Homo sapiens: one gene and its partners. The protein of the gene in region 2 purifies or fractionates together with the protein of the main gene of each other region. This does not show direct contact. Each region holds a gene or a part of one and is shown on either strand. Other genes may lie near its edges.

The links.
Region 1: the proteins of RRM2 (region 2) and ANAPC4 purify together in Homo sapiens (affinity purification with mass spectrometry; 3 studies listed by BioGRID and IntAct, with this or other methods). This does not show direct contact.
Region 3: the proteins of RRM2 (region 2) and INPPL1 purify together in Homo sapiens (affinity purification with mass spectrometry; 3 studies listed by BioGRID and IntAct, with this or other methods). This does not show direct contact.

The regions. Positions count from the first base shown.
Region 1 is NC_000004.12:25,387,225-25,394,334, forward strand, and holds part of ANAPC4 (anaphase-promoting complex subunit 4), read left to right. Parts: intron 1-1,275; coding exon 1,276-1,350; intron 1,351-1,492; coding exon 1,493-1,519; intron 1,520-1,613; coding exon 1,614-1,658; intron 1,659-2,911; coding exon 2,912-2,996; intron 2,997-3,686; coding exon 3,687-3,791; intron 3,792-5,113; coding exon 5,114-5,197; intron 5,198-6,580; coding exon 6,581-6,667; intron 6,668-7,085; coding exon 7,086-7,110. UniProt on the Homo sapiens protein: Component of the anaphase promoting complex/cyclosome (APC/C), a cell cycle-regulated E3 ubiquitin ligase that controls progression through mitosis and the G1 phase of the cell cycle.
Region 2 is NC_000002.12:10,125,729-10,132,014, forward strand, and holds the end of RRM2 (ribonucleoside-diphosphate reductase subunit M2), read left to right. Parts: intron 1-1,146; coding exon 1,147-1,241; intron 1,242-1,358; coding exon 1,359-1,492; intron 1,493-3,119; coding exon 3,120-3,224; intron 3,225-3,312; coding exon 3,313-3,426; intron 3,427-3,505; coding exon 3,506-3,658; 3' UTR 3,659-5,686; downstream 5,687-6,286. UniProt on the Homo sapiens protein: Provides the precursors necessary for DNA synthesis. Catalyzes the biosynthesis of deoxyribonucleotides from the corresponding ribonucleotides. Inhibits Wnt signaling.
Region 3 is NC_000011.10:72,220,542-72,227,766, forward strand, and holds the start of INPPL1 (phosphatidylinositol 3,4,5-trisphosphate 5-phosphatase 2), read left to right. Parts: upstream 1-4,225; 5' UTR 4,226-4,443; coding exon 4,444-4,625; intron 4,626-7,225. Other genes in the region: FOLR2 (folate receptor beta), read left to right, coding at 329-517, 635-770, 929-1,221. UniProt on the Homo sapiens protein: Phosphatidylinositol (PtdIns) phosphatase that specifically hydrolyzes the 5-phosphate of phosphatidylinositol-3,4,5-trisphosphate (PtdIns(3,4,5)P3) to produce PtdIns(3,4)P2, thereby negatively regulating the PI3K (phosphoinositide 3-kinase) pathways.

The DNA of each region.
Region 1 (7,110 bases), on a different chromosome or scaffold from region 2:
ATCAGTGGGTTTGGCTAATACTGAAAACAAAAATTGTTTTTCTTTTTTGGGGAAATATGCTAATTTTCTTACCATTAACTTTTCCTTTCTAATTAAGTTATACTAAGGTAATATCAAATGAATTTGTAAATCCTGAATATTAATTGCCAGCTTTCCTAAGGGAAGCCTGAAAGAATTGGATGACAAGGGTTTGACCTGGGGTTTGAAATTCACTGTAGATAAACCAGAGTGATAAATCCATCATCAGATAATGAAGGATTACAAATCGTTATGTGAATATGTAGAATGTTAGAGGGTCAGAGCATATCATGTAATTCCTATTCCAGCCCGGTTATCTGCTGTGTGTATTCCCAACATACTTTCTACTAACAGTTTAGAAGTGTTATGTGGCGATTCCAGGGTCTCTCAAGACAGCTCCTTTTTATTAAAGTAGGAAAAAATACTTGCTAAATCACCACTTTTTTACTTGCTTACTCATTTATTTCCAACCTTATTTGGAGTTAGAATTGAGAAGGAAAAGGGGGTAAATAAGACTATTTCAAAAGGCATGGTGTAGTCTCAAATACCTGTTGGATTATCAAATCCACAAGTGTGTATAAGTCATAGAACCAATAACTAAATCACATAGTAGGCCATGCATAGTGGTTCATGCCTATAATCCTAGCACTTTGGGAGGCTGAGGCAGGAGGAAGGAGTTTCAGACCAGTCTGGGCAACATAGTGAGACCCCCATCTCTAAAAAAAAAAATGTATATATTAGCTGGGTGTGGTGGCTTGCACCTGTAGTCCCAGCTACTCAGGAGGCTGGGGCAGGATGATGGCTTTAGCTCAGAAGGTGAAGGCTGCAGTGAACCATGATCACACCACTGCACTCCGGCCTGGGTGAGACCCTGTCTCATAAATAAAAGATAGTGCTACTCTTAGTAGTCATATGTTTGGTGTGAGTTCTTAAATGAGAGTTAAGAAATCATAAATTCTCAGTATCTGAGTACATATGAATGCATTTCATATGCTAAGAAAAGTGTTTATTAATATCATTTCTCTAAATGTAACGTGTGCAGGCTGATGTTTTTTTTCCCCTAAAATAACAGAAATTCCTACTTTTCAATTTCCTATTTGGGACTGTTAAACTGACTACAACTGTATAGTATTTGTGTCATCTATTTACTTGATAATGTTGTAAAACTGGGTATCTTTTTTAAAAATTAGCATTTTTAATGGCAAGAGAAGTAAAATCTTTGGTGTTTTTATAATGCTTTTATTTTTTCCTTTTTAGTGTTCTCACATCATTTTATAATGCTGAGGATGAATCAAATCTTCTCTTACCTAAACTACCTACACTGCCAAAAAAGTATGTATCACTGGTTTCTTTGAAATTAATCTTGCAGATTTCTCTTTCTTCTGCTTTTAACACTGTGACAATTTTCTCATGCGTTTTAAAATATGTATTTTTACTAAGAGTATTTTTTACCTTAATCTCTGTTTCCTTCTAGCTATAGCAACACCTCAAAAATATTTAGGTAAGATACGCCTTTTCTTGTTTTCAAGTAAGATAATCTGCTATTATTTGGAAGACAGAATTGAAAGATGACCCAATTTACTTCTATATTTTAGTGAAGAAAATTCTGATGAAATTATTAAGCTCTTGGGAGACGTCAGGTAAATCTTACAGATAAATAAGTCTAATTTCTTAAAGTTATTTCATATTTGAGGCAGTTTTCAGAAGCTTTAAGAGCAAATCCTTTATTTGCCATTTTATTTCATTGTTTTTTGTTTTTGTTTTCTTTTTGAGATGGAGTCTCTGTCACCCAGGCTGGAGTGCAGTGTCGTGATATTGGCTCACTACAACCTCTACTTCCTGGGCACAAGCGATTCTCCTGTCTCAGCCTCCTCCGAGTAGCTGGGACTACAGGCACGCGCCACCACACCCAGCTAATTTTTTTTTTTTTTTTTTGAGACGGAGTCTCGCTCTGTTGCCAGGCTGGAGTACAGTGGCGTTATCTCGGCTCACTGCAACCTCCGCCTTCCTGGTTCAAGTGATTCTTCTGCCTCAGCCTCCCGAGTAGCTGGGACTACAGGCACCCGCCACCAGGCCTGTCTAATTTTTTTATTTTTAGTAGGGACGGGGTTTCACCATGTTGGCCAGGATGGTCTCGATCTCTTGACCTCGTGATCCACCCGCCTTAGCCTCCAAAAGCGCTGGGATTACAGGCGTGAGCCACCGCGCCTGGCCTAATTTTTGTATTTTTAGTAGAGACGGGGTTTCACCATGTTGGCCAGGCTGGTCTCAGACTCCCAACCTCAGATGATCCACCCGCCTTGGCCTCCCAAAGTGTTGGGATTACAGGCATGAGCCACCGCACCTGGCCTTATCGTTGACATTAATACCTTCAAACAATATATAGACCTTAATATCTATTATTGTTTTTATTGTGTGGCCTTTCGTTTTATGAAGTTTTAATAATAATATGATGTACATATGTTTATTTTAATAAGTTAAAGGATATAAGTACTAGAGTTTCTAAAATTTTAAGTATTCATGTTTTTTAAGCCCATTTAATATATTTAGCATCATAACCATGATAAAACTGATGGCACTTTGTATTAGTTGGTAAAAGGATTGTTTTGTTATTGAGAGTGTATAAATATAGTTGTTATTAAAATAATGTATTCTTATTTTACTGTAAGCTGATTTTTTTTTAGGCTAGAGGAAATTTGTGTTCTTTGAAAAAAGGAATGAGCCTGATGTGACTGAATATTGAGTGTTAGTGGATTTGATGTCTCACTTCCCTCTGCAGGGGAGCTTTAGCATGTAGATTATATGAAAGCAGTAATAATTTATATCTCGCTTTAACAATGCAATCATCTGTGTTGTTGATTGGTTCTCAGCTTGTTGCATTGTTTTTAATTAGGCTTAATATTCTCGTCCTTGGAGGAAGCTCTGGATTTATTGAGCTTTATGCTTATGGAATGTTTAAAATTGCTCGAGTCACAGGGGTAAGATTTCTTTAACATTTTCTCTTCCTAAATTATTTCTCTTAGAATATACTAGGTACTTATGGAAAAAGAATAAAACACTAGGTTTTTTTTCAGTTTCGATTTTTGGAATTATTCTTAAATGTTCAGAGACTAATTTCCTTACTAAGATAAAATAATTGTGATATGTCTATAAAGATTGGGAGCTATTTGTGGAATTAGTCAAGTTTTTTTTTCTTTTTCTTTAACAGAAAGATTAGTATGATACACTTGATTATGATTTGATGTTTTTCTAGTGTGAGATGTAAAAGAGCTTCAATTTGTGATTGGAATGTAAATCTTCAGAAGCATTCTTAAGTCCAGTACTGACTGTACTATAGTTGCTACGTCTCAGTCTTCTCCATAGCTTTTTCATCAGACTCTTACACTCGCAAAAGGGGTAGAAAATATTGTAGGCTCTGTGGAATATGTTGGTTCTGCAGCACTTGATTTGAGACTTGGGTAGGGGTGAGGGAACCAGGTTATTTTTGTGGCCTTGTAACTAGAAAGGTCCATGCAGGCAGACACCTACCTTCATCTGCTACATGTGTGTGGCTGGAGCTGGGAATTTGTTTCTGCTTTTTAAAGCTCTGAGTTTTTGCTTTCTGCATGATAATCAGCTTCAACCTAGCAGTGATACTAAATATACTAAGGGGTTTGACTCTTTTACAGATTGCTGGTACTTGTCTTGCATTATGTTTATCAAGTGATTTGAAATCATTATCAGTGGTCACAGAAGTCTCTACCAATGGTGCTTCAGAAGTTTCATACTTTCAGGTGAGTATTGGAACTTGATAACGGTAGAGAGTAAATATGTATTTAACAGGTTTTATATAGGTTTTTATCCACATCTCACTGTATTGTAATGATCATTAAAATAATGCAAAAAAATCGACTTGGAATTTCTACATCCTAATATACTGAGTGTTATTATAGTGAATACCATATTATTCTTCCCATGCTCCAATACAGTTTTCATAAAAAGTGTTTTGGTGGTCTATTAATGACCATATTAATTTGTTGCTATTCCAGTTTGACTTTGTACCAAGTGTTTGCTTAGGACTCTGTCCCTGATAATAACAAAGGTTAATATTTATTGATTGTTTAATATGTGCCATATGCTGAATGCTTCAGAACAGTTGATTTGAATCTTCACAGCATCATAATAGGCAGATACTGTTATTATCCCCATTTTATAGGTAAGTACATGGACACACAAATACTTCAGAACTTGCTTGATGTCACAGGATGGGAAAGTGATGCTAGACAATCTGGCTGCATAATCTGTGCTCTTAACTAGCACATTGCATCTTGTGTAAAATGATCACTTAATATTGGGAAAATGCTTTATTGCGTGCTGTCTGCATTGTAGATTAAGGAAGCTAACTGGGCTCCCATAGAGTATTTAGATCATAGCCTTGCCAAGAAATCGAAAATTTTCATCTTAAATATCCCAGCCACTTAAGTATGTGTGAACTCTCAAACAAAAGTAGAACAAAAAAGATGCAAGATGCAATGTGTGTGATGTCTTCCAACATTCTCTTTGTATTCAGAGCATCAGAGAACTCTTGGTTTACTGTTCACTATGGTAATGGTTGTTCATATTTGCTCATCTTCTTAAGGTTATGTGAAACTATGATCACCAGGATTGCATTTGGATTATAATAAAATGATTCACTACTACTGTGAAGTTGGTAACAGATCATTTTTAATGACAAATTTATTAAGATACAATTCATATACCATTGATAGATATTTTCCCAATATTTATCAGTAGCCTTTAATTCCTTATACTTCCTTTAAGTTTTTACATATATTTGTGATTTAAACATTTCTTTGTAATACTGTTTCAAAATAGGTTATATTACATTTATTCTATCTACACAGGAGGGGTTGATAACCCAGAGAGAGTGATTTGTGTATGGTTATGTGTAGGTTAGGAGATCCTAAGGCTATGTGCTGTTTCCAAACCGTTCTGCTCAAAGAGGGCACAATTCTGACATAGTCTTTCTGATACGTAGTTTGACCCACACTCTAAATTACAGACTTTGCAGCAAGTGCATCTGATGATGACTCACTTTACTCTTTTGATTTTACAGCTTGAAACTAATCTGTTGTACTCTTTCTTACCTGAAGTAACTCGGATGGCCAGAAAGTTTACTCATATTTCAGCTCTGTTACAGGTATTTATTTAGAGCTTGTTTTATGTGAATATTTATTATCGGCTTCTAAAGTTCTGTAAATAAAAAGCTTCAAAATTTTGTTTTGTAAAGCTTTCTGAAGTAGAGGTATCTAGTCTGATAGATGATCTTATAAGGTCCATTAAAGCAGGAAAAGGACATTTAATTGAGAACCTACTTTCACCGCACCCTATTTTCCACCTCCAAAAGAGTTTAAATCTTTTAAAATACTCCCATAAATAAAATACCATTTACATTATAAAGTATTGTGGGAAAAACAGTCTTCACATGAGTTTACATTTGTTCATAATAAACCCACCCCAAATTACCTCCCAATTCTGTAGGTTGGTGATTTAGGCTCAGCTTAGCCAAGATGTTTGGGTGACCTGGAGAAGGTTCAGCTGATCTTGACTAGACTTGGTCATGCCAGCTGGTATGTGTCCCTTGGCTGTGATTCCTTGTCTCTACTCCACATCCTTCATACTCCAGCGAGCCAGCACAGGCTTGTCCACATGGTGGTGGTAACGGGGCATCGAGGGTGCAAGTGGAAGTGTACAAAGACTTTTGAGGCCCTGGAGTCAACAGTGTTATTTCTGCTGCATTCCGTTAGTCAAAGCGAGACTCAAGGGCTGAAGAAATGGACTCTGCATCTGACTGGAGGGGCTACAAAAGATTGTGGCCATGTTTTTCATTCTACCACAGTCATTAATTTATTTGATATTAAAGGTTTCTAGAGATCAGTATCTTTTTAAAATTGAATAATTGACCAAACCAGTATTTTGACAGTTAGTGTAGATAAGACATATCTTATATAAAAAGCTTGGAGATATTTGTTTCACCAGATAAAAATTTAAGAATGTTTTATTATGAAATTCTAAGAATCAATGGAATGTTTCGTAGTTAAGTGATGACCAAGCTGTTGTCTTTTTCTCCATCTTAACTGAGTTAAAAGAGTGATTGAGGCTGGGCACAGTGGCGCACACCTATAATCCCAGCACTTTGGGAGGCTGAGGCAGGTGGATCACTTGAGGCTTGGAGTTCGAGACCAGCCTGGCCAACATGGTAAAGCCCCGTCTCTACTAAAAATACAAAAATTAGCTGGGCATGGTGACGCACGCATATAATACCAGCTACTTGGGAGGCTGAGGCAGGAGAATCGCTTGAACCTGGGAGGCAGAGGTTGCAGTGAGCCAAGATGGCGTCACTGCACTCCAGCCTGGACGACAGAGCAAGACTCTGTCTCGATAAATAAATAATAAAAATAAAACAGTGATTGAAAGTAAATTCTAGATTTCTTTGAGACACTTGATCATAAGCACATATTATTTAGATAGCAAGTTGGTTTAAATATTTTTTACCATTTCAATTTTTCTTTTTTGCTAATAGTATATAAATTTGTCACTAACATGTATGTGTGAAGCATGGGAAGAAATACTAATGCAGATGGATTCTCGTCTCACCAAGTTTGTGCAGGTAAAGCAGCTGAAGTTTCCCATGGAGAGAGTTAAAGAATGCATGATGTATGTCTTTACCTTGAGGTACATGAGAAAAATCAGTTTGATTCATAAAAGGCTAAGATCATAATTTCTTTCAAATGGCTTCGTCTGACTTCAAACTGCTTCCTCAGATTTGCCAAAAGGGCTCTTTTCCCATTGATACAACTTAAGTGGGGACAGGATTGTGAAGTGGAGCTGGTGGGGCTTTGGCAATAAGGGCAGGTGTTAGAACAGCTGATTGGCTATCTTCTAGTCACTGATGTTCAGATGATCACTTTATGGATTTGATGGAAGTCTAAGGCAAGGAAAGGGAGTCATGCTCCTATAATTTTGAATAAATATGCTTATAATTTAAGAAATACATATATCACAATTTTTTTTTCACTTTTTTCCAGGAAAAGAACACAACCACATCAGTGC
Region 2 (6,286 bases):
GAGTGGAAGTGGTGAAGCTGCAACCTAAAGTAGCCGTTGTAGACTTTGAAGTACATGAAGAGGAAAAGTGGTAACTTGAAAGGACTGAGGAAACATTGGGAGTAAAGAGATTTGAACATGTTTATAGGTGGAAATTGAGAAAAGAAGGCAAAGATTAGGGGTACGATCGGGGGCAAATGCCCAGAAGGGGAACAGGAAGGTCTGCTGGGGAAGCCTCAAAAACAAGGGAGAGGCAGACCCAGGTCTCAGAGAGAGGGACAGTGAGATGGAAAGAATGAACGACAGCTGGGCATGGTAGTCTGAGCTAGTAGTCCCAGCTACTTGGCAGGCTGAGGCAGAAGGATGGCTTGAGCCCTGGAGTTTGGTTTTACCGTGAGCTGTGATCATCTCGCTGCACTCTAGCCTGGGCAACAGAGTGAGACCCTCATCTCTTTAAAAAAAAAAAAAAAAAAAAAAAAAAAAAAGCTGCCCAATGTCTGGTGCCCTTGGCTTCAGAACACAAAGTCATCTGGGTAGGAACAGTCTGGGAAATGAGTAGCCTCTCAAGGTGGGCACCAGAATAAAGGGAGGCAGAGGAGGGTGGTAAGGGAGATCCAGTTAACTGTAGTACCCATGGATTTGCTTTCCTGACCTGGGATCGACAGTGTAGCACAGAGTCCTAGTAGGAAGCAATCTTAGTTTATTGGTTTAATTATTTTATGATATAGGTGTGGCAACTGAGGCCAAATAATGCACCTAATCATAGTCTGATAATAGCACAGCAGTTAGGATTTTATGGTTCTTCAAATTTAAATTCTATGATTCTTCAAATTGAACAATGATCTGGACTTGAAATAATTTTAAAGGCAACAAATGTCCCTGCTGTACTGGACTATGTTTTACTGTCTGTAGACCCTGAAGCTCAATATGAACTACAGAATACCCAAACTTGTATTAATGTAAATCAAGTGTTGAGGTTTTTAAAAGAACACTGGAGGGAAAAACTGACCAGTAAAAATAAAACATTTCGGTGTGAGTTCTTCCTTTAGGAAGAGGATTGGCAAATACTTGAATTTGGCCTTTGTCCCAGAGCTCTTATCTAGCAGTTGGTAATCGGAGGTCTTTTACTGTAATGCTTCAATTGCTGATACCGTATGTGCCTACTAGGGAATTTCTCTTCAATGCCATTGAAACGATGCCTTGTGTCAAGAAGAAGGCAGACTGGGCCTTGCGCTGGATTGGGGACAAAGAGGCTACCTATGGTAAGGAGACCCTTGCCCCTACTTAAACCTGAGCTTCATTTTCCAAGTAATGTTACTGGATTTTTGGCCCTTGAATACCAACTCACTAGAATCATGTTGGTGTTAACTCCTAAATAGGTGAACGTGTTGTAGCCTTTGCTGCAGTGGAAGGCATTTTCTTTTCCGGTTCTTTTGCGTCGATATTCTGGCTCAAGAAACGAGGACTGATGCCTGGCCTCACATTTTCTAATGAACTTATTAGCAGAGATGAGGTGAGTCTAAGTCAAATAATAGGGTGACCTAAACCCCAAACACAACTCGGGCATGCTCTTGTGTTCACTGACGGGGACCTGAGATGCTAGATGGCATATATCCACATTTAATGTGTGAGTTCAACCATACACATACTTGACAAAAGAAGGAAATACTTTCATTTACTGAAACTGTTTTACTTGCATTCTCAATATATTGTAATACATTTGTACATATGTATTCCCCTATAGGCTTTGAATGCATAAAACTACAAGTTCTTTGTTTTTTGAGGTGACGGAATCTTGCTCTGTCGTTCCAGGCTGGAGTGCAATGGCGTGATCTTGGCTCACTGCAACCTCTGCCTCCTAGGTTCAAGTGATTCTCCCGCCTCAGCCTCCCAAGTAGCTGGGATTGTAGGTGCCTGCCACCATGCCCAGCTAATTTTCGTCTTTTTATACAGACGGGGTTTCACCATGTTTGCCAGACTGGGGTTGAACTCCTGACCTCAGGTGATCAGGTGATCCACCCGCCTCGGCCTCCCAGAGTGCTGGGATTATAGGCATGAGCCACCATGCCCAGCCAAAACTACAAGTTATTGATGGGATTGGGATTTTAAGGGATGTTTTATTATTTTTGCCTGGTATTAATATGTTATCCCTTTTTCCGTAAAAATGTTCATAGTAGAGCCAGGAGCGGTGGCTCATGCCTGTAATCCCAGCACTTTGGTAGGCCGAGGCGGGTGGATCATGAGGTCAGGAGATTGAGACCATCCTGGCTAACACGGTGAAACCCCATCTCTACTAAAAATACAAAAAATTAGCCGGGTATGGTGGACGTGCCTATTGTCCCAGCTACTTGAGAGGCTGAGGTAGGAGAATCGCCTGAACCTGGGAGGTGGAGGTTGCAGTGAGTCAAGATCACACCACTGCACTCCAGCCTGGGTGACAGTCCCCCCGAAAAAGAATGTTCATAGTAGCCATTATGTTTCTCCTGTTTGATCTAGAAATTGCCCCTCTACTTCAATATTAATAAGCATTTCAATGAAATGAGTATACATTTTGGTCTAGTGTATGTCTTTGATTAAGTCACATTTGAAAAGCCAGGAGCATGAACTCCATCTTACTTGGAGCCCAGTGGGCAAATCAAATATGGTTACCTTGTAGGAGGGCCTTCCTTACTGGATTGGGAGATAAGCTGTGAAGCTTGATGTTTAATGCAGTAACTTGCAAACTTGATTTACTTGAAATTGCATACAAATTTCCTGAGCATCTAAAAACTAGCCTTATTACTGAGCTTTGCCTTTCCTGCTGGGAGTAGTGGCAAAATTAGCACTCATGGCTGTAGAAAGATCACTGAGTGAAGCTCTGACTCCTCCTTTGCCAACACACAGCAGAGCAAGAAATACACCTTGCCTGTCTTCATCTAGGTGGCAACTTTGAGGGTCTTGAATGGGACTGAGCTTGCCTTGGTAGTGACATCAGCAGAGAAGTCAGTAGTTGAAGTCATCTTCCCTTTGAGAGTTCAAGTGCTCTCAGTATGGCTGAGCATGTTGGATAAGGAGAATGCAGAAAAGGACAAAGTAATTTCATATTCCATGTTAATGACAGAAGTCTTCTGGCTTTAGTGATCTTGAACTTTTTTTTCTAGGGTTTACACTGTGATTTTGCTTGCCTGATGTTCAAACACCTGGTACACAAACCATCGGAGGAGAGAGTAAGAGAAATAATTATCAATGCTGTTCGGATAGAACAGGTAAAGTGGGTGATGAAATGGGTCACTCAAGCTTGCTAGAAAATGCCTGTGCTTTAGTTGTATTCAGAAGCTGTATTTTGGTTCCTAGGAGTTCCTCACTGAGGCCTTGCCTGTGAAGCTCATTGGGATGAATTGCACTCTAATGAAGCAATACATTGAGTTTGTGGCAGACAGACTTATGCTGGAACTGGGTTTTAGCAAGGTAAAGTATTGTTTACATAGCCTTTTGCTTGTTTTGAAGCTGGTGCTCTGTATTTATATCTTGATGTGAACCTTTTCAGGTTTTCAGAGTAGAGAACCCATTTGACTTTATGGAGAATATTTCACTGGAAGGAAAGACTAACTTCTTTGAGAAGAGAGTAGGCGAGTATCAGAGGATGGGAGTGATGTCAAGTCCAACAGAGAATTCTTTTACCTTGGATGCTGACTTCTAAATGAACTGAAGATGTGCCCTTACTTGGCTGATTTTTTTTTTCCATCTCATAAGAAAAATCAGCTGAAGTGTTACCAACTAGCCACACCATGAATTGTCCGTAATGTTCATTAACAGCATCTTTAAAACTGTGTAGCTACCTCACAACCAGTCCTGTCTGTTTATAGTGCTGGTAGTATCACCTTTTGCCAGAAGGCCTGGCTGGCTGTGACTTACCATAGCAGTGACAATGGCAGTCTTGGCTTTAAAGTGAGGGGTGACCCTTTAGTGAGCTTAGCACAGCGGGATTAAACAGTCCTTTAACCAGCACAGCCAGTTAAAAGATGCAGCCTCACTGCTTCAACGCAGATTTTAATGTTTACTTAAATATAAACCTGGCACTTTACAAACAAATAAACATTGTTTGTACTCACAAGGCGATAATAGCTTGATTTATTTGGTTTCTACACCAAATACATTCTCCTGACCACTAATGGGAGCCAATTCACAATTCACTAAGTGACTAAAGTAAGTTAAACTTGTGTAGACTAAGCATGTAATTTTTAAGTTTTATTTTAATGAATTAAAATATTTGTTAACCAACTTTAAAGTCAGTCCTGTGTATACCTAGATATTAGTCAGTTGGTGCCAGATAGAAGACAGGTTGTGTTTTTATCCTGTGGCTTGTGTAGTGTCCTGGGATTCTCTGCCCCCTCTGAGTAGAGTGTTGTGGGATAAAGGAATCTCTCAGGGCAAGGAGCTTCTTAAGTTAAATCACTAGAAATTTAGGGGTGATCTGGGCCTTCATATGTGTGAGAAGCCGTTTCATTTTATTTCTCACTGTATTTTCCTCAACGTCTGGTTGATGAGAAAAAATTCTTGAAGAGTTTTCATATGTGGGAGCTAAGGTAGTATTGTAAAATTTCAAGTCATCCTTAAACAAAATGATCCACCTAAGATCTTGCCCCTGTTAAGTGGTGAAATCAACTAGAGGTGGTTCCTACAAGTTGTTCATTCTAGTTTTGTTTGGTGTAAGTAGGTTGTGTGAGTTAATTCATTTATATTTACTATGTCTGTTAAATCAGAAATTTTTTATTATCTATGTTCTTCTAGATTTTACCTGTAGTTCATACTTCAGTCACCCAGTGTCTTATTCTGGCATTGTCTAAATCTGAGCATTGTCTAGGGGGATCTTAAACTTTAGTAGGAAACCATGAGCTGTTAATACAGTTTCCATTCAAATATTAATTTCAGAATGAAACATAATTTTTTTTTTTTTTTTTGAGATGGAGTCTCGCTCTGTTGCCCAGGCTGGAGTGCAGTGGCGCGATTTTGGCTCACTGTAACCTCCATCTCCTGGGTTCAAGCAATTCTCCTGTCTCAGCCTCCCTAGTAGCTGGGACTGCAGGTATGTGCTACCACACCTGGCTAATTTTTGTATTTTTAGTAGAGATGGAGTTTCACCATATTGGTCAGGCTGGTCTTGAACTCCTGACCTCAGGTGATCCACCCACCTCGGCCTCCCAAAGTGCTGGGATTGCAGGCGTGATAAACAAATATTCTTAATAGGGCTACTTTGAATTAATCTGCCTTTATGTTTGGGAGAAGAAAGCTGAGACATTGCATGAAAGATGATGAGAGATAAATGTTGATCTTTTGGCCCCATTTGTTAATTGTATTCAGTATTTGAACGTCGTCCTGTTTATTGTTAGTTTTCTTCATCATTTATTGTATAGACAATTTTTAAATCTCTGTAATATGATACATTTTCCTATCTTTTAAGTTATTGTTACCTAAAGTTAATCCAGATTATATGGTCCTTATATGTGTACAACATTAAAATGAAAGGCTTTGTCTTGCATTGTGAGGTACAGGCGGAAGTTGGAATCAGGTTTTAGGATTCTGTCTCTCATTAGCTGAATAATGTGAGGATTAACTTCTGCCAGCTCAGACCATTTCCTAATCAGTTGAAAGGGAAACAAGTATTTCAGTCTCAAAATTGAATAATGCACAAGTCTTAAGTGATTAAAATAAAACTGTTCTTATGTCAGTTTCTTGATTGGTAAAATTTGCATTTTAATTCAGGAAGAGAAATATTTTTTGGCCAGGCATGGCTGTAATCCCAGCACTTTGGGAGACCAAGGTAGGCAGATCACCTGAGCTCAGGAGTTCGAGATCAGCCTGGCCAACATGGTGACACCCCATCTCTACTAAAAATACAAAAATTAGCCTGGCATGGTGGCACACGCCTGTAATCCCAGCTACTCGTGAGGCTGAGGCAGGAGAATCACTTGAACCCGGGAGGCAGAGGTTGCAGTGAGCTGAGATTGCACCGCTGCACTCCAGCCTGGGCAGCAGAGTGAGACTGTCTGAAAAAAAAAGGTGTTTTTTGTAAAGGCTAACGAATTCATTTGCTTTCCACTGGTTCTGGGCAAGAGACTTGCCTTGTGCCTATTGGCACAAGGTGTATAGGAGACAGGTACACCCGAAAGGTGGTGCCCAAAAATACTAACTGCCATACTGCACGTGGGGTTTGTGAAGCCGGGGCTGAGTTAACTTCTCAACCGTGGGGGAGCCACTCCTGGGGCTCTTTTCCCGTTTGCAAAACAGGTGGGGCTAGAGGTCTTCCCAGCTGGAGTTTTGCTCTGCT
Region 3 (7,225 bases), on a different chromosome or scaffold from region 2:
CATAAAGTAGGTGCTCAATAATTTTTAAATGAGTAAGTGAAAGGACTTTTTATGAAGTGTTACATACCTCATAAATGATAACTATTATTCCCAAGACAGGGTTTCCCCTGGGCTCCCACAGTCCCCTGATCACACGGTTGTAATTGTGTTTCCTCCAAGAAAGGGGTTCCTGGAGGCCTAGGAGAGAGGGACCATCATCTGGGAACCTGAGTGTTCTCAGGACAACCTGCCTAGGGCAGAGGAGTAAGAACCAAATGGGGGAGAGACACGAGGTGGCAGGAGGAGGAGGGTATGGGGAGGCACTTAGTCCTGTGTCTTCCCCACCCAGTGCAGTCCCTGGAAGAAGAATGCCTGCTGCACAGCCAGCACCAGCCAGGAGCTGCACAAGGACACCTCCCGCCTGTACAACTTTAACTGGGACCACTGCGGCAAGATGGAGCCCGCCTGCAAGCGCCACTTCATCCAGGACACCTGTCTCTATGAGTGCTCACCCAACCTGGGGCCCTGGATCCAGCAGGTAGGGTGTCTCCCCCCCACCCACCCCAGCAGACTGCCATCCCCCTCAGTCACTTCAAGGCGATGGCTGCCAGCATCCCTGGCTGAGAGGAGCCCTGCCTCCCCACCTCCCACCCAGGTGAATCAGAGCTGGCGCAAAGAACGCTTCCTGGATGTGCCCTTATGCAAAGAGGACTGTCAGCGCTGGTGGGAGGATTGTCACACCTCCCACACGTGCAAGAGCAACTGGCACAGAGGATGGGACTGGACCTCAGGTGAGGGTGATTGAGTTGGGGTTAGGAAAAAGGAGATTGAGGTAGGGTTTGGAAAATCTTCAAGGATTTGGGGTGGGGTGAAGATTTCTGGGGGTGGCCAGAAATGAGCTTTGGGCCCAGGGGCTGAAAGTCTGTGTCCACCATGCCTCTCCCTGCAGGAGTTAACAAGTGCCCAGCTGGGGCTCTCTGCCGCACCTTTGAGTCCTACTTCCCCACTCCAGCTGCCCTTTGTGAAGGCCTCTGGAGTCACTCATACAAGGTCAGCAACTACAGCCGAGGGAGCGGCCGCTGCATCCAGATGTGGTTTGATTCAGCCCAGGGCAACCCCAACGAGGAAGTGGCGAGGTTCTATGCTGCAGCCATGCATGTGAATGCTGGTGAGATGCTTCATGGGACTGGGGGTCTCCTGCTCAGTCTGGCCCTGATGCTGCAACTCTGGCTCCTTGGCTGAGTTCAGTCCTCCCAGACTACCTGCCCTCAGCTTGGATAACCAGGCTGGGCTCAGCTCAGCTCCCACAAATGACAGCCCCTTAAGCATGCTTCTATTAGTCACCTAACCCTCTGTCACCCAGTCTGTTGCTGCTCCATGGTGGGGCCAAGAGTCACTTCTAATAAACAGACTGTTTTCTAATAATTCCATGTCTGTGGAATTGTTTTGGTTGTGAGTTTGTGGGTGGGTGGGAGACAGATTCTACGGCTTCTGGATTCCTTCAAATTAGAGCAACTAGACCTGTGTTTGAATCCCAGCTCTGCTACTTTGTGAAAATGAAACAGTTGCTTCACTGCTCTAAACCTTTGTTTCCTTCTGGATAAAAAGAGGATAATAGTCCTGCCCTCAGGCTTGTGAAATATACAGGAGCTGTTGCCTAGAAAGCCCGTGAGCCCAGTGTCTGCACATTAATAGTCTTCAGGGATCCTGTTGTTCCTGTTGCCCCAAGTGGGAGCCAGGTCCTGAGCTTATTTGTCTTGGTCTCCAAACAGCCTCCTGGTCCTCCAGCCCTTGTGCCTGGCTCTGTGCTCGGCTCTGTAACAGGAAAGCTGGGAATGGGAGTCCAGGAAAGGATTCAGATTGCCAGTGGGATGAAAAAAATTCACAGTGGGATGAAAAAAACGTGATGCACATTGAAGGAGCAGAGTTGGGGCCTGGGACTCTCAGAGGAAAAACAGAGCCAATTGGAGAGGGCAGTGTAGGGGGTTTCTGGAGTGGAATACTCAAGAGCCTGGAACTGGTTCAGCGCTTTGGTGTCCTGGAGGTGTGGCTGGAAGAGTTAGAAACCCTTAAGGGCTTCCCGGGGTCAGGAGCCTCTGGCACCTTTGTCTCCTCCTGGGATTGGCAGATATGCCTATCTTGAGGGGGTTGCTCTGTCTTTGCAAAGCCCTCGGGAGCTGGGCCTAAGTTATCTCTGGGTCTCCCAACACCCCTTTCCCTTTGGATAAGTCTTTGTTTGCACACTCCTACTACAACTGTCCCCAGAGAGGCCCAGGTAAGTCTCTGAGAACACCCTGCAGGTAGGTGGCCCAGCTAGGACTAGAACCCAGGTGTGCAGACTCCCAGTCCAGGTCTCTCCCCCACTACCAAGGATTCCCCTCACATCAGGCTCATCTTTTCTTATACTAAAAGGTGGCTGATGAGAACGGTGGCACAGATTGTAGGATGAGTTATTGGGTTCTGGAGGCACTGTTGGGTGGGTGGGTGGATCTCTTAGTTATTATATTTATCTAGTGTGGAAGGCCCCACAGAGCCCCTTCCACGTCCCAGGCTCTGCTCCAGCTGGGTTAAGTCAATGCATATTTGAAATAGAGGAAGGAGCTCGAGGGACTGACCCGGGCTCCGTCAACAGGTTCAACGTAGCAAAGTGAAAGTTCTCTCCCAGGTTAAAGGGATTCTCCCACGGCGGCCCAGGAGATGGTGGCGGCGGGCGCCCGGCTGGAGGCCTGCGCCTTTAAGGAGCCAGGGGGCGGAGGGGCGGGGCAGGAAGACGACTCCCCGGAGACGCCGCCACCGGCTAGGTCTTTTTTTGGGAGGGGGCGGGCCAGACCCTTTTATGGGCTCCGCCCCCTTTGCGGCTGCCGCGTCCCCCTTCCGCCCTCGGCTGGAGGGGAGGAAGCTAGGGGGGCGTTGCAGCGGACCCCGTCTGGGAGCTCCCCGCTGGGCGTCCGGCCCGCGGAGGCGCGAGTTTGCTGACTCGGAGGGAGCCGCTGGGGCGGGGGCGAGTGCTAATAATACCCGTTCGTTCCGCAGCCGCGCTTTACAGTTTACACAGCTGTCACCTTCGTTTCTCCTTAATTAATAATAAAAATAGCCGCCGTTCGGGAGCGCGGGCTGGGCGCCAGGCCCGGTGCCGAGCGCGGTACGAGCTCGGCCCCCAGAGCCGGCCCTCGCCACAGGATCCCCATTTTCCAGAGCGGGAAGCCGACGCTCAACCCCGCGCCGCGACTTGCCCGAGGTCACCCAGTGGGCCAGCGGCTCCGGGACCGAGGCGCGGGGCGGGGTGAGGCGAGGCGCGGTGCTGCCCCCGGCTCCCCGGGGCGGCGCGGGGCGGGGCGGGCGGCGCGGAGGGCGGGGGCGCGCGCGGATGGCCATCTTAAGTGGCCGCCTGGAGCCCAGGGCCGCTGTCCGGGGAAGGGGGCGCCGGAGCAGCCCGGGAGGTGGGGGTCTGCGTGCGGCGGCCGGGATCCCGGGAGGGAACTTTCTACTAGACGGGCCAGGGATCCTCCTGGCTTCGGACTGCTGAACCCCCTCAAGGCCCGGCCTGCGGGTGTGGGGGGTGGTGCTGGGGAACTTGGCCGAGAGGGGGAAGGGCTCTGCGGGGCTGGGAGGGGCTGCGTGAGAGGCTCGAGAACGTCGCACCTCGTCTGGGCCCCCCGCCAGAGTAAGAATCTTCAGAAGCCTGGTTAGCCAGGGAATCTCCCCGCAGGCTTTGCCGGGGGACGGTTCCCGTGGAGTTGGGGGTTCAGATCTAAGAGGGGGCTGCATTTCGCAGGAGTTGGGGGCCCCGCCCGCTTGGGTGGAGGGAAGAGGATGGGTAGGGGGTGGTCCTGGATCCTTCGCAGGTTTGGGGAACTCGATGCAGCCAAGCTGTAAGGGGGACGAGAGGAAGAGCCATGGAGTGGAATCAGACCTTTATGGGGCTTAGGGGTCATATCATTGGGAGAACTGAGAAGCGCTGAATTCTCCAGGGGGTGCCTGGATCCCGAAGTGTCGGGGCCAGGATGGGGGGACTCGGATTTCGATGGGGATTTGGGGACTGGATCTCCTCGGGTGAATGATGGGGGCAGGATCATTGTGGGGTCTGGGAGGTCCCGGGCCCTTCGGGAAGGTGGGGGCACCGTCCCCGCAGGAGGAGCTGGGGGCAGGGGCGGCCCGGGCTGCGGGCCGAGCGGAGGGGGAGGGGGCGGCAGCCGGCCCTGCGCTCCGCTCCTGCCCCTCCCCCGCCGCCTCTGAACAAACTTTTCTTTCTCTTCAAGTTGAGGCCGGCGCTGCAGGCAGCGGCGGCTGCGCGGTGAACGAGGCGGCCTGCGCGGCGGAGTGCTGAGTCCCGATCCCCGGCTCTGTCCGGCCCACGGATCCTCAAGCCCGGGCCCCGGGCCCGGCCCCAGCCTCAGCCCTGAGCGTCTCGGGGCGGATGGCGCGGGGCGGCGGGGGCGGGCGGTGCTGAGCCCTGCGCGGGCCATGGCCTCGGCCTGCGGGGCGCCGGGCCCGGGGGGCGCCCTGGGCAGCCAGGCCCCCTCCTGGTACCACCGCGACCTGAGCCGGGCGGCCGCGGAGGAGCTGCTGGCCCGGGCGGGCCGCGATGGCAGCTTCCTGGTCCGAGACAGCGAGAGCGTGGCGGGGGCCTTCGCGCTCTGCGTCCTGTGAGTGGGGCGGGGGCTCCTTGCGGGCTGGCGTGGACCGGGAGCGCGGGCACGGCCGGGTGTGGAAAGGGCCCGGGTGAGGGTTTCTGGGGCGGTGGGACGCCAGACCCGCCTCCACCCCCCAGAGTGGGAGCCTTGGCTTTCTCCTGGGTCTGAGGAGGGACGCAGGGGCACTTCCTGCTGTGTGTCTGGGGGCACTTTCAGGAGCCTTGAGGGTAGAGAATATGGGGTTCTGTGGCCCAGTGTGACTGTGATGACGAAAAATTCGGGCATTCCCCGGCAGACCCCTTCAGGCATCCTCCAGGTAGAAGGGAGCAGGGGAGAGGATGTGCATTCCACGTTGTGTGCAGTCCCGTTTGGATAGGGACTGAGTGGTGAGCAGGAGAGGGAGTCGGGGCAGAGGGACTGACGGGGTGTGTGGGGATGCCTGGCAGCTTCCTTAGGGCCCCTTTCGGTGCTTTGGGGTTCTGCCTGGCCGTGTATGGGTGGTGGGGGCGGTGATGGGTGGTGTAGAGAGGAAGGCTTGGGGAAGCAGAGGCTGAGGCTGTATGGGACCTTGCCATTATTTCTGAACCAATGAGTGAGTGTTTGAGCCCTGGCTCTGGGCTTGAGCCCTGGTTACCTGGCTGCCCTAGCCCTGAGCTATGAGTGCTGAGTGAGAGCAGAGCCAGACTTGGTGCTTCTCTGAGTGGGCCAGGTCCTGTGGCTGTGCCTTTCAGCCCAGTGTGGTTGGTAGTGGTGCTGGGGTGAGTTAGCACTCTTGGTTTTGCAGCCTTCTAGCGGCTTTGTACCTCCTGCCCTGCAGTCTGACATTGAGTTGGCTTCTGTGGGCCCAGTGAGTGGGAATCTGTGGGGGCTGCTTTATTTAGATCAGTTATTTAGATCTTTATTTAGATCTTTCTTAGCTCTGTGAACCCCCTCCCAAACTCCTGTCCCACTGTACCTTCCTTACCCCTTTGTTCTCCTGACATCTTTGGTCGGGGCGCACATTAGCCTAGACCAGGGGAGACCTTTTTTTTTTTTTTTTTTTTTGAGAAAGAGTCTCGCTCTGTTGCCCAGGCTGGAGTGCAGTAGTGCAATCTCGGCTCACTGCAACCTCCGCCTCCTGGATTCAAGTGATTCTTCTGCCTCTGCCTCGCCAGTAGCTGGGATTACAGGCGCTCGCCACCAAGCCCAGCTAATTTTTGTATTTTTAGTAGAGATGGGGTTTCACCATATTGGCCAGGCTGGTCTTGAACTCCTGACCTCAAGTGATCCACCTGCCCCGGCCTCTCAAAGTGCTAGGATTACAGGTGGAGCCACCTCGCCCAGCTGGGGAGACATTTTTAATTGTCACAACTGGGATGGTGCTATTGACATCTAGTGGGTAGAAGCCGGGGATACTGCTAAACATTCTACAGTGCACAAGAGAGTCCCCCACAACAAAGAACTGTGCAATCCAAAATGTCAGTGGTATGGAGGTTGAAAAACTCTAGCCTAGGCAATTGACCCAACAAGGAAGGGGCCCTATAAGTCTTAGCTTAGGCCTCAAGTCTGAGGCCCAGTAGGGGGAGACTAAGGAGGGACAGACTAGGCAGATGAATATCCCCAAGTCCTGCTTCCCAGCCCCCTCTGAGGCATACCCCCTAATTAGGCTGGGGAGGGAGGCAGGTGCTGGGTCAGCTGTTGAGTGGGAGGGGGACAGCTGGGGCCTGTGTCTGGGTGAGGAACATTATTGTCCCAGGAGGGGGAGAATCCTGGCCTCATTGCCAAGGGAGGCTGTGAATGGGGTGAGGGGTCTGTCTGTGAGTGGGGGCTTCAGGTTTGCCAGCTGACTCTGGCTCTTCCCCGCATCTCAAGAGCCTGGGGGTAAGGATCAGACGTGGGCGATCAGACGTGGGCAATATCTTAGATTTGCCAAATACACACATACTTGCTTACCTGTATACATTCCGGGTGTTCATGGATAACATGCAAGACACGCCCCTGCCCCAGCAGGCACAGGCAATCTGACCAGCAAGCTAGGATACTGGCCCTGGCTTCTGCCATGGTTTAAAATCCCAACTCCACCTTTTACTTACTCTGTGGCCTTAGGAAAATCACTTTTATTCTTTGAGCCTGTTTCCTCAGCTGGAGAATGGGGATAATAATATCTGTTTAGAAGTGTGAGAATTAAGTAAGATTTATAGGACACTGGGTACCCAGCGTGTCACAGATAGGATTCAGTTAATGGTATGCTATTGTAATAAACACAGATAGTGTTTGTAATAGTCTACAAAGGAACACCTGGTGACAGACACTCACCCAGCATAAGCAGCCAGGAGAGTCACCTAGGGTGACTCCTGGGTGACTCCTTGGGGAAGCATGCCCTGAGGTGCGGAGGCAGAGGATCTTCCATCCCCCGCTGATTGTGCACCTGGCTCAGCTGCCACCTGCTCAACTGCGGCTCCTGTCTGTCAGCACCCCTCTTGCCCCTCCTTGGCTTGGGGCTCCTAGAGGCCCAGGTCTCCCATGGGGGCCCTCTTTGGTGGGAAGGCCTAGGGTGATGCCCCCACACTCCTCGGCACAAGTGCCCTAGACATACCCGACTCCAGCAGAGCCAGAGAGCAGCATAAACACAG